Regions from separate parts of the Homo sapiens genome. Here region 1 is linked to region 2. The links come from fine-mapping of genetic effects on gene expression. Tissue or cell type: CD4 T cells. Region 2 holds a variant in brackets; the other region holds the start of a gene. All regions are shown on one strand. Distances are between the middles of the regions.

Region 1 (5,232 bases), 670 kb after region 2:
ACATAAACTTAGTTGATAAAGCTATCAACTTTATCAACTTTATCAACTTTATCAAATCCTTATGAGAGGATTTGAGAGGATTGACTCTAATTTTGAAAGAAGTTCTACTGTGGGCAAAATGCTATCAAACAACATTGCATGCTACTGCACAATTGTTTGTGAAGGGCAATCAATCAATGTGGCAAACTTCATTGTCTTATTTTAAGAAATTTCTGCAGCTACCCTAACTTTCAGCAGCCACCACCCTGATGAGTCAGCAGCCATCAACACTGAGGCAAGGCCTTCCACTAACAAGAAGATTTTGACTTGCTGAAGGTTCAGATGATGTTAACATTTTGAGCAATAAAGTATTTTTCTTCTTTTTTTTTGCCTTGCCAACTTTTAGGTTCAAGGAGTACATGTGCAGGTTTGTTAGATGGATAAATTGTGTGTTGTGGGAGTTTGGTGTACAGATAATTTTGCCATCCAGGTAATAAGCATAATCCATGATAGGTAGTTTTTCAATCCGACTCTCATACCAACTTCCACCCTAAAATAGGTCCCAGTGTCTAGTGTTCCCTTCTTTGTGCCCGTGTGTACTCAATGGTTAGCTCACACTTATGTGAGAATGTGTGGTATTTGGTTTTCTGTTCCTGCTTAATTTGCTTAGGATAATGGCCTCCAGCTCCATCCATGTTGCTGCAAAGGCCATGATCTCATTTTTAAAAATAGGTAGTATTTCATGGTGTATACATACCACATGTTCTTTATCGAGTCCACCATTGATGGGCACCCTAGGTTGATTCCATGTCTTTGCTATTGTGAACAGTGCTGTGATGAACATACGCAGGCATATGTCTTTATGGTAGAACAATTTCTATTCTCTTGGATATATACTTAGTAATGGAATTGCTGGGTCAAATGGTAGTTCTATTTTAAGTTCTCTGAGAAATCTCCAGACTGCTTTTCACAGTGGCTGAAATAATTTACACCACCAGCTCTGCACAAGCATTCCCTTTTCTCCCTCACCAGCCATTCTGACTGGTGTGAGATAATATCTCATTGTGGTTTTGAATTGCATTTCCCTAATGATTAGTGATACTGAGCATTTTTATCATATGCTTTTTGGCCACATTATGTCTTCTTTTGAGAAGGGTCTGTTCATGTCCTTTACCCATTAAAATTTTTTTTTGTTTTTTGCTTGTTGATTTAAGTTCTTTATAGATTCTGGATATTAGATCTTTGTTGGATGCATAGTTTGCAAATATTTGTTCCCATTCTGTAGGTTGTCTTTTACTCTGTTGATAGTTTCTTTTCCAGTGTAGAAGCTCTTTAGTTTAATTAGGTCCCACTTGTCAATTTTTGTTTTGGTTGCAATTGCTTGTAGAGTTTTTATCATGAAGTCTTTGCCTGGGCCAATGTCCAGAATGGTATTTTCTAGATTTTCTTCTAGGGTCTTTATAGCTTTAGATTTTACATTTAAGTCTTTAATCCATCTTGTATTGATTTTTGTATGTGGTAAAAAGTGGGGGTCCAGTTTCATTCTTCTGCATATGGTTAGCCAGTTATGCCAGTAGCATTTATTGAATAGGAAGTCCTTTTCCCATTGATTGTTTTTGTCAGCTTCATTGAAGATCAGACAGTTGTAGGTGTGTAGCTTTATTTCTGGGTTCTCTATTCTGTTTCATTTGTTAATGATTCTCATTTTGTACCAGTACCATGCTGTTTTGGTTACTGTAGGCTTGTAGTATAGTTTGAAGTCTGGAAGTATAATGCCTCCAGCTTTGGTCTTTTTGCTTAGAATTGTTTTGGCTATCCAGGCCCTTTTTGCTTCCAAATGCATTTTCAAATGGCTTTTTCTGATTCTGTGAAAAATGTTGGTAGTTTGTATATAGGAATAACATTGAATCCGTAAATTGTTTTGGGCAGTATGACTATTTTAACAATATTGACCCTTCCTATCCATGAGCATAGAATGTTTTTCTGTTTGTTTGTGTTGTCTCTGATACAGTGTTTTATAATTCTCATTGTAAAGCTCTTTCACCTCCCTGTTTAGCTGTATTCCTAGGTATTTTATTCTTATTGTGGCTATTGTGAGTGGGATTGCATTCTTGATTTGACTCTCAGCTTGGACATATTTCTATGCATTTCATACGATTGAAATGCTGCTAGAAATGCTGATTTTTGTACATTGATTTTGTATCTTGAACCTTTGCTGAAGTGGTTTATCAGATCTAGAAGCTTTGGGCAGAGACTACAGGGTTTTCTAGGCTTATATTGTCTGTGAATATTGTCTGTCAAACATAGTTTGACTTCCTCTCTTCCTATTTAGATGACTTTTATTTCTTTCTCATGCATGATTGCTCTGGCTAGGACTTCAATACTATATTGAGTAGGAGTGGCAAGAGTGGGCATCCTTGTCTTGTTCCGCTTCTCAAGAGGAACGCTTCCAGCTTTTGTCAATTCATTATGATGTTGGCTGTGGGATTGTCAGAGTTGACTGTTACTATTTTGTGGTATGTACCTTTGATGTCTGGTTTGTTGAGGGTTTTTAACATGAAAAGATGTTAAATTTTATCAAAAGCCTCTTCTGCATCTATTAAGATGATCTTTTTTTAAAGTTTGGTTTATGTGATGAATCACATGTATTGATTTGCATATGTTGAATCAATCTTGCTTCCCAGGGATAAAGCCTACTTGATTGTGGTGAATTCATTTTTTTGCGGGGCAGGGGGGAGGGGGGGTGGGTATTGCAGGGAGCTCCCAACAGGAAACAATGTGGTGGATTAGCTTTTTGATATACTGCTGGATTTGGTTTGCTAGTATTTTGTTTAGGATTTTTGCATCTATGTTCATCAGTGATATTGGTCTGAAGTTTTCTTTTTCTGTTGTCTCTCTGCCAGGTTTTGATGTCAGAATGATGCTGACTTCATAGAATGAATTAGGGAGGAGTCCCTCCTCCTCAAGTTTTTGGAATAATTTCAGTAGGATTGGCACCAGCTCTTCTTTATATGTCTGGTAGAATTTGGCTGTGAATCCATCTGGTCCAGGGCCTTTTCTGGTTGGTAAGTTTTTTTTTAATTACTGATTAAATTTTGGTACTTGTTATTGGTCTGTTCAATTTCATCCTGGTTTAATCTTGGGAGTTTGTATGATTCCAAGAGGTTATCAATTTTGTGTAGGTTTTCTAGTTTGTGTGCATAGTGGTGTTTGTAATAGTCTCTGATTTTTGTTTGTATTTTTATGGGGTCAGTGGTAATATCCCCTTTGTTATTTTTGATTGTGTTTATCTGGATTTTCTCTTTCTTTAGTAGTCTAACTAGTGGTCTACCAGTCTTATTTATTCTACAAAGAACCAACTTTTGGTTTCATGGATCTTTTGTATGGTTTCCCTTATCTCCATTTTGTTCAGTTCAGCTCTAATTTTGGTTATTTCTTTTCTTCTACTAGCTTTGGGGTTGGTTTGCTCTTGTTTTTCAAGTTCCTCTAGGTGTGATGTTAGGTTAATTGGAGATATTTCTAACTTTTTGATGTGGGCATTTAGTGCTATAAACTTTCCTCTCAACACTGGTTTAATTGTGTCCCAGAGATTTTGGTATGTTGTATCTTTGTTCTTATTAGTTTCAAAAAACTTCTTGATTTCTGTCTTAATTTTGTTGTTTACCAAAAAGTCATTCAGGAACAGGAGCATGTACTAACAAGCACATGTAAGTGTGTGGTTTTGAGAGCTCTTGGTATTGATGTCTATCAATAAACTATTTTTGGATTAAGATATGTACACTGTTTTTATACATAATGCTGTCACACACTTAGTAGATCACAGTATAGTGTAAACATATCTTTTATATGCACTGAGAAACCAAAATATTTGTTTGACTCACTTTATTAGGGTGGCCTGGAACTGAATCTGTAATATCTATGAGGTATGCCTGTGCTATAATTTTTCCATGTGATTTAATGGAGTTTTCCAGAAGTGAAATGAGTTACCCAAGGTCATGGAGTTAGCAAATGATAAAGATGGTTTTTTAATTTTAATTTTAATTTTTTAGTATCTGCCTCTGTAAAGATGGGTTTTAAGTTTACATCGGATGAGTGTAAGGCCTGTGATTGTGACACTAGACAACTGTGAATAGTCAATAGCCTGCTGGCTCCTCCGACCTACCATCTGAATCCTCTGAATGTCTATATCAGGGTCAAGATGAAGGAAATGGTCTGACATTTTCAGACCATTTCTTTGTTGGTGCAAGTATAGCCTAAACATTATGAAGAGAGAATTGGTAATATTTATGCACAGATTGAATTATCTGTATTTCTACTTTTATTGGCTTTCCCAAGGAATAAATAAATAAATACTCAAGGATTTAGTTATCATTATGTAACTAATAGTGAATTTCTACAATAGGGAAAAACTGAAACCACCAAGCTTGTCAACAACTGGTGATTAATTGGCAGAGTAATCTACCAATCTATGAAATTTTTGAAAATATTTAGGAGTACAGGAAAATATTTATTGTAAATGTTAAACTTAAAAATAGTCACAGGATTATCCACTATATAAAAATATATATGTACATAAGAAAAAGTCTACTAGAATATATGCACAAATGTTAGCATAGGTTGACAAGATTAACAATTATTTTTAAATTTAATTGTCATTTTCATATTTTTACAAAATTTATGCACTAAGCATGAGTTGCTCTTTTATTAGTACAAGAGCAAAAAATGACATCTTGAAAAGAAATCTTTTTCTTTTTTTTTTCCTACGGAGAGAAGTAAATGATATAAATTGATGAGGGGTCCCAGGAATAGGACAAGGCCAAGAGTATATTGTAAAGTGGGAAGAGGCAAGGAAATAGAACTAGAGAAGAAAATGTTAGGACAATCTACAGGCTTTGCTTCTCTCCCACTTTCCCACTTTCTCATCCCAACCAAACAACTCTGGGAATATTCCTAGACCCAGTCAAGACTTACTCAGAGCCTCTCACAGTCAGCTCAGCTCCTGAAATTTCCCTTCCCATTATGCCCCTCTGCTAGCACTGTAAGGGTATCTAGAGAGAGTGCCTTGGTGATGGGAATAAGCCCAAGATGTATCGTGGCTCTGAGGCCCAGGAAAAGCTGTGGGCTTCACCATCTGGCATACCTGGCTCTGAATTCACTTCCTTTCAAATCTTGTTTCTACCACTTATTGGCTGTGTGGCCTTGGGCAAGTTGCTTAGCTCCTCGATGCTTCAGTTTCTGCATTGGCAAAATATA
Region 2 (5,232 bases):
AATGGCTCTTTTAGTTCCTCATAAGCTCTGCAGGCTCCAGTCTCAAGATGCATCCTGAATGGGGCCACTTCTCCAGTCTCAGCCTGCTCCAAGCCACGTGATCTTTCACTGGATGCTGCAGACCCCTAGCTCCTGGTCTTCCTGCTTCCCCTCCTACCCACTACTCAGTGCCCCATTCTCTGCCCCACAGCCAAAGGGATCCTTCTAATTGAGAAATCTGAATGCATCACGCCTGACTCAGAACCCTTCCGTAGCATCCCACCTTGCTGGGAATACAATCCCGAGTCCTCACCAAAGCCAGACCTTACATCATGTGTGGTCCATGCGCCTCTCTGTCTTCTCCCTTCGCTGGTCACTTTGTTCCAGCCACCTTGGCCTCATTGTTCCTTCTTACCCCAGAGCCCTTAGACTTGCTGTTCCCTCTGCCTGCAATGAATTTGACTCAAATCTTCGCATGGCAGCTCCTTTGCCCACTTTATGTTGCTGATCAAATACCACCTCCCCGGAGAGGCTTCCTTGACCACTCCAGCTAAAAACCCGCCCCTCCTCCCCATCCATCTCCACTCCAGGAGTTAATGCATCTGGGGCCATGGACCCCTTGGCCCTGGTGAAGCCCTTCTCAGAATAATGATTTTAAAGGCATAGACGAAAATACATAGATTTATCAAGGCAGCCAATTATATAGAAATCGTTTTCAAAATATTTACAAAACAAATGAGTGATACAGTACTAGATGCACTTCTTTATTAATGCATTAAATAACAAGATCTCGTGGCAGTTCTATTAACCACAACAATTTTGAAGCAGTGATGAGTGTCAATGATGTTTCAAAATGTATGCAACAACTGTAATGTGATAGGAAATATCTGATTTCTGTTGGTGACAAAGTCACAGGCACTGCTAATACTACCGTGGTATGTTGCCAACATTTATAATTGAAGAAAAATGCGATATTTTAGTTACAGGTTAGTGAGATAAAAATATAATTTTTTTCCTCCTCTAACTTCACTGACCCCCTGAATTCTATCTCTAGATGCCTTGGGGCAGGGGGAGGGTCTGGTTCTTTTTTTTTTTTTTTTATAAGTCCCTTTCACTACCCAACATCATACATTTATTCGTCAACTTGCTTTCTGTCAATTTTTCCCAGAAGAGCAGAGATTTTATCTGTTCTGTTCTCTGCTGTATTTTCAGGACCTAGAACATCTGCCAGGCACATAGTTGATCAACAAATATTTTTTAAATAAATGAATAAGCAATAGAGGAGGCTGGAAAGACAGGGAGGCTTGAGGCAGATGCGAGGGGCCTTGAAAGCCAAGCACAGGAGCTCGGCTGTGACTGGTGGTGATGGACTCACCCTGGGAGGGGACGCCAGCCTGGGAGAGGTCACTGTGCCCAGGGCAGCCAGGCTAATAGGTGGCGTGACTGGGGGCGTGAGCAGACTGGCTGTGACCACCTTCCAAAGGCAGCTTTCAGAGGGAGGCCCAGGCACACACGAGTCCCTGCATCAGCTGTGGATGTCGGCAGCCACTCCACTCCCTGCTCTCCCCGCTCCTCCTCTGGTCCCTTGGAGGTCAAGCAGAAACTTGGAGAAGCCAGGCTTACAGCCCTGTCATCATTCTTCAGCGTTTCCCAGGCAGTAATAGTGTGCCAGGCACCAAGGGCAGGGCCCACGGGGCTCTGGGGAAGGAGAGCCCCAGAGGTCATGATGCACCGCGGGGACGTCTCCACGGCAGCTATTGCAGACAGACCCAGTGTGTTGGACCCAGGAGCCACAGGTCACCCCTCCCCAACTGGGGCTGGATATTCAGGGCCACGAAGGAGAAGCCAGGGAAATAGCCAGCTTCTGGGATCAGACCCACTTGGGTGGAATTTCAGCTTGGCTGCTTGTTTACTAATTGCATGCGGTTGAGCAGGTCACATAACCACTCCAAGCCTTGGTCTCCTTTTTTTTTTCCTCGAGACAGGGTGTCACTCTGTCTCCCATGCTAGAGTGCAGTGGCGCAATCTTGACCCACTGCAGCCTCAACTTCCAGGGCTTAAGCGATCCTTCCACTCAGCCTCCCAGGTAGCTGGGACTACAGGCATGCACCACCAGGCCTGCCTAATTTTGTAGCTTTTTGTAGAGCCAGGGTCTCCCTATGTTGCCCAGGCCGGTCTATAACTCCTGGACTCAAGTGATCCTCCTACCTGAGCTTTCCAAAGCACTGGGATTACAGGTGTGAGCCACCGCGCCCAGCTCAGTGTCCCTTTCTAAAATGAGAGTGGTTTTTTCTACATCATAGATTTTGGGTGAGGATTTAATGTGGGAAAATAACAGATCTAAAGCAGCCAGCTCAATGCCAGATGCATGGTAGATGCTCAACAAATGGTTGCCCTTGTCCTTGTGAAAATAGCAAAATGACTTGACAAGGAGGCCAGTAGTCCTCTGAAGCCAGCATCCCTGCATAACCTGCCTCAACACCCTGCCCAAAACGGAGTAGGGGGAGAATAAGGTGGTAACCTGGGAGCCAATAAGCTGGGAATGAAGAGAAAAGACATGTTTTGGAACCATGTCTGGATTCAAATCCCAAGCTCTGCAGTTTACAGCTGTGTGACCTCAGGTAAACCACATCACCTCTCTGAACCTCACTTTTCTTTTTCATAAAACAAAGGTAATCCCTTCTTCTCACAGTGCTGTGAGGGTTACTGGACAAGTGTGCACAGAATGTGTGAAAGACCTCTGGGACAGGCCCTGACCCGAGGTCAGCACTCAGTCAACAGCAGCTTGGAATACGTGATCACAGCCCAGCCCAGAGAGGGAACCAAGGAGGATACAGATCATAGGATTAATCCCTTGCATTTGTCAAGTGTTTCACACTGTGGAAGGAGCACTCACTCACAACCGTCTT[T/G]GCATCTGAGCCTCACTTCAGCACTTTAGGAATGAGAGGATGGAGAGTTTTTAACTTTTAAGTTCAGGGGTTACAAGTGCAGATTTGTTGTATAGGTAAACCCATGTCTTGAGGGTTTGTTGTACAGATTATTTTGTCACCCAGATACTAAGCCTAGCACCTATTAGTTATTTTCCCCTGCTCCTGTCCCTCCTCCCACCCTCCACCCTCCAACAGGCCCCAGTATGTGTTGTTCCCCCTTTGGGTCCATGTGTTCTCATCATTTAGCTCCCACTTGTAAGTAAGAACATGCAGTATTTGGTTTTCTGGTCCTGCGTTAGTCTGCTAAGGATGATGGCCTTCAGTTCCATCCGTATCTCTGCAAAGGACATGATCTCGTTCCTTTTTTATGGCTGAAGTACCGAGAGTTTAATTTTTTTTTTTTTTTTTTTTTTGAGACGGAGTTTCACTCTGCTGCTCAGGCTGGAGTGCAGTGGAGCGATCTTGGCTCACTGCAACCTCCGTCTCCCGGGTTCAAGCGATTCTCCTGCCTCAGCCTCCCAAGGAGCTAGGATTACAAGTGTGCACCACCATGCCCGGCTAATTTTTGTATTTTTAGTAGAGACGGAGTTTCACCATGTTGGCCAGGCTAGTTTCGAACTCCTGACCTCAGGTGATTCACCCGCCTTGGCCTCCCAAAGTGCTGGGATTACAGGCGTGAGCCACCATATCTGGTCCTTGATCTACATTTGACAAAAGAGACACAGAGCTGTGGTGGCACTGGACTCTCAGAAGCAATCTGCTCAAAGGTCACCAGCCAGTAAGGTTTGGGGCAGGATATGAAGCCAATTATCTCCTTTCCTGTCTCTTTTCAAAATAGACACTCATTCATTCACTCAAGAGATGGTCCCAAGCTAAGCCCCAGGGAACTGGCAATAAATAAGGTAGACATAGCACCTGCCCTCAAGGAACTTCGAGTCCCGTGGACTCAGGATGCTCCCCCCACACTTCACCGATTTGAAGGGAGACCTATTTTTGCTAGATTTTCCTTCAAAGAAGGAAGGCAAGATCTAGCAATCTTGCCCACTCGCAATCTTGCATCACTTGCCCAAGGTCACTCAGCATCAGATCTAGATGACAGATAGGGAAGTGCCTTGAGTCTAGAGTTATGGCCAGGAATAGGAGCGTTCTCTGTCCTTGGGGATGACATCCACTCACTAATAAGCCCAGAGATAGACACTAGGATCCCAGGATGAATAAGAGTCCTAAAATGAAGGATTCCACAGCCAAATGCACTGGGAAAAGCTACACCATCTCCACCCCTCCCTGCAAGTCTGCTGCTCCTGAACACACTGTAGGCTCTCTGAAAATTTCTACAGAAAGAAACCACTTAACTCGATGTTTCTCAAATGTACTTGACCATGTGAACCTTTTTTTCCAGCCACACCTACTGAATTTGGAGTATGATAGGCAGAGGAAAGAACACAGGCTCTGGATGGGATCAAACTGTCAAGATATTAAAACACAGAGGAGGGAAGGTCACTTGCCCAGGTCACTCAGCATCAGATCTAGAGCCTGGGTCTCCATGCTGTTGCTAACATGAGAAGATCCTTAAGGATATTCTGCCTGGCCTCCTCTCTCAGAGAGGTGGCCCTGACAACCTGCTATGTGGTAGTTCATTCTGGAGCTGCTGATTCCTTCCTAGCCTTTGTGCAAATTAAAAGAAGGTACCACCTTCTTCTGGGCCAACAAAATCCCATGTCAGAGCACATGGATTGCAAAAGTGTAGTATGGGCTGGATTTCAGCCCCCACTTGCCCCCTTAGCCAAGCACCCTGGTGCAGGACACAACCTGTGCAACTGTACATGGCCACCCTTATTAGCCCTTTCCTCATTCCTCCTCACTCATTCTACCCTTGGCCACTTCACGTGAGGGGCGCCCTCCCCTCAGTGCTGGGCTGAGGCTGGTGTGGGAACAGCCCAGTTGTTGGGGCTGTACTTCCAAACCCCAAAGCAGCATCAGCCAAAGGTGCTGACTCAGCAAACCTTAATTTATCTCACAGGCCAGGGGTGCGCGTGAAGCAATTAGTGAAATAATGGTTATGTCGCACTAAAAATTATTTATAGAGTCACCGTGCACACAGCTGTGATTAAATTAGACAACCAGGGGGACTTTAACTGCTGGCGGAACCAGCATCCCAGGCCCGGGCTGCAGCTGGCTGGGGGTGGGGCAGGGTCATGCTTCTGGTCTGCTCACCCACTCCAGGCAGCTGAGCCAACCCTGACCCAGGCCAGGACATAGGGGGTCTACCTGGGCAGGGGTCTTGGGAGGAATCCCTGTCCCAGAGAGTCTGCGCTGCCAGGAG

Which allele goes with the higher level. Positions count from the first base shown, and alleles are read on the strand shown. Sizes are in standard deviations (SD) of each study's normalised expression.
As copies of G replace T in region 2, the expression in CD4 T cells of the gene that starts at base 2,983 in region 1 goes up (moderate effect, 0.67 SD a copy in CEDAR).

Evidence for each region. PIP is the estimated chance that this variant, and not a neighbour inherited with it, causes the effect. A credible set is the group of variants that fine-mapping cannot tell apart.
Region 1: it holds the start of WFDC11, and the variant in region 2 is the best candidate, but not a certain one, in a credible set for the expression of WFDC11 in CD4 T cells (CEDAR, PIP 0.64).

The regions. Positions count from the first base shown.
Region 1 is chr20:45,667,990-45,673,221 of GRCh38, reverse strand. WFDC11 (WAP four-disulfide core domain 11) reads left to right here and starts at 2,983. Exons shown (of 5, transcript NM_147197.2): 1 at 2,983-3,044.
Region 2 is chr20:46,334,310-46,339,541 of GRCh38, reverse strand. No RefSeq gene overlaps it. Among named protein-coding and RNA genes, the nearest start is that of SLC35H1, 27 kb to the left of the region's middle. RefSeq lists an enhancer at 1,518-2,019. The variant T/G (reference allele first, on the strand shown) is at 2,889.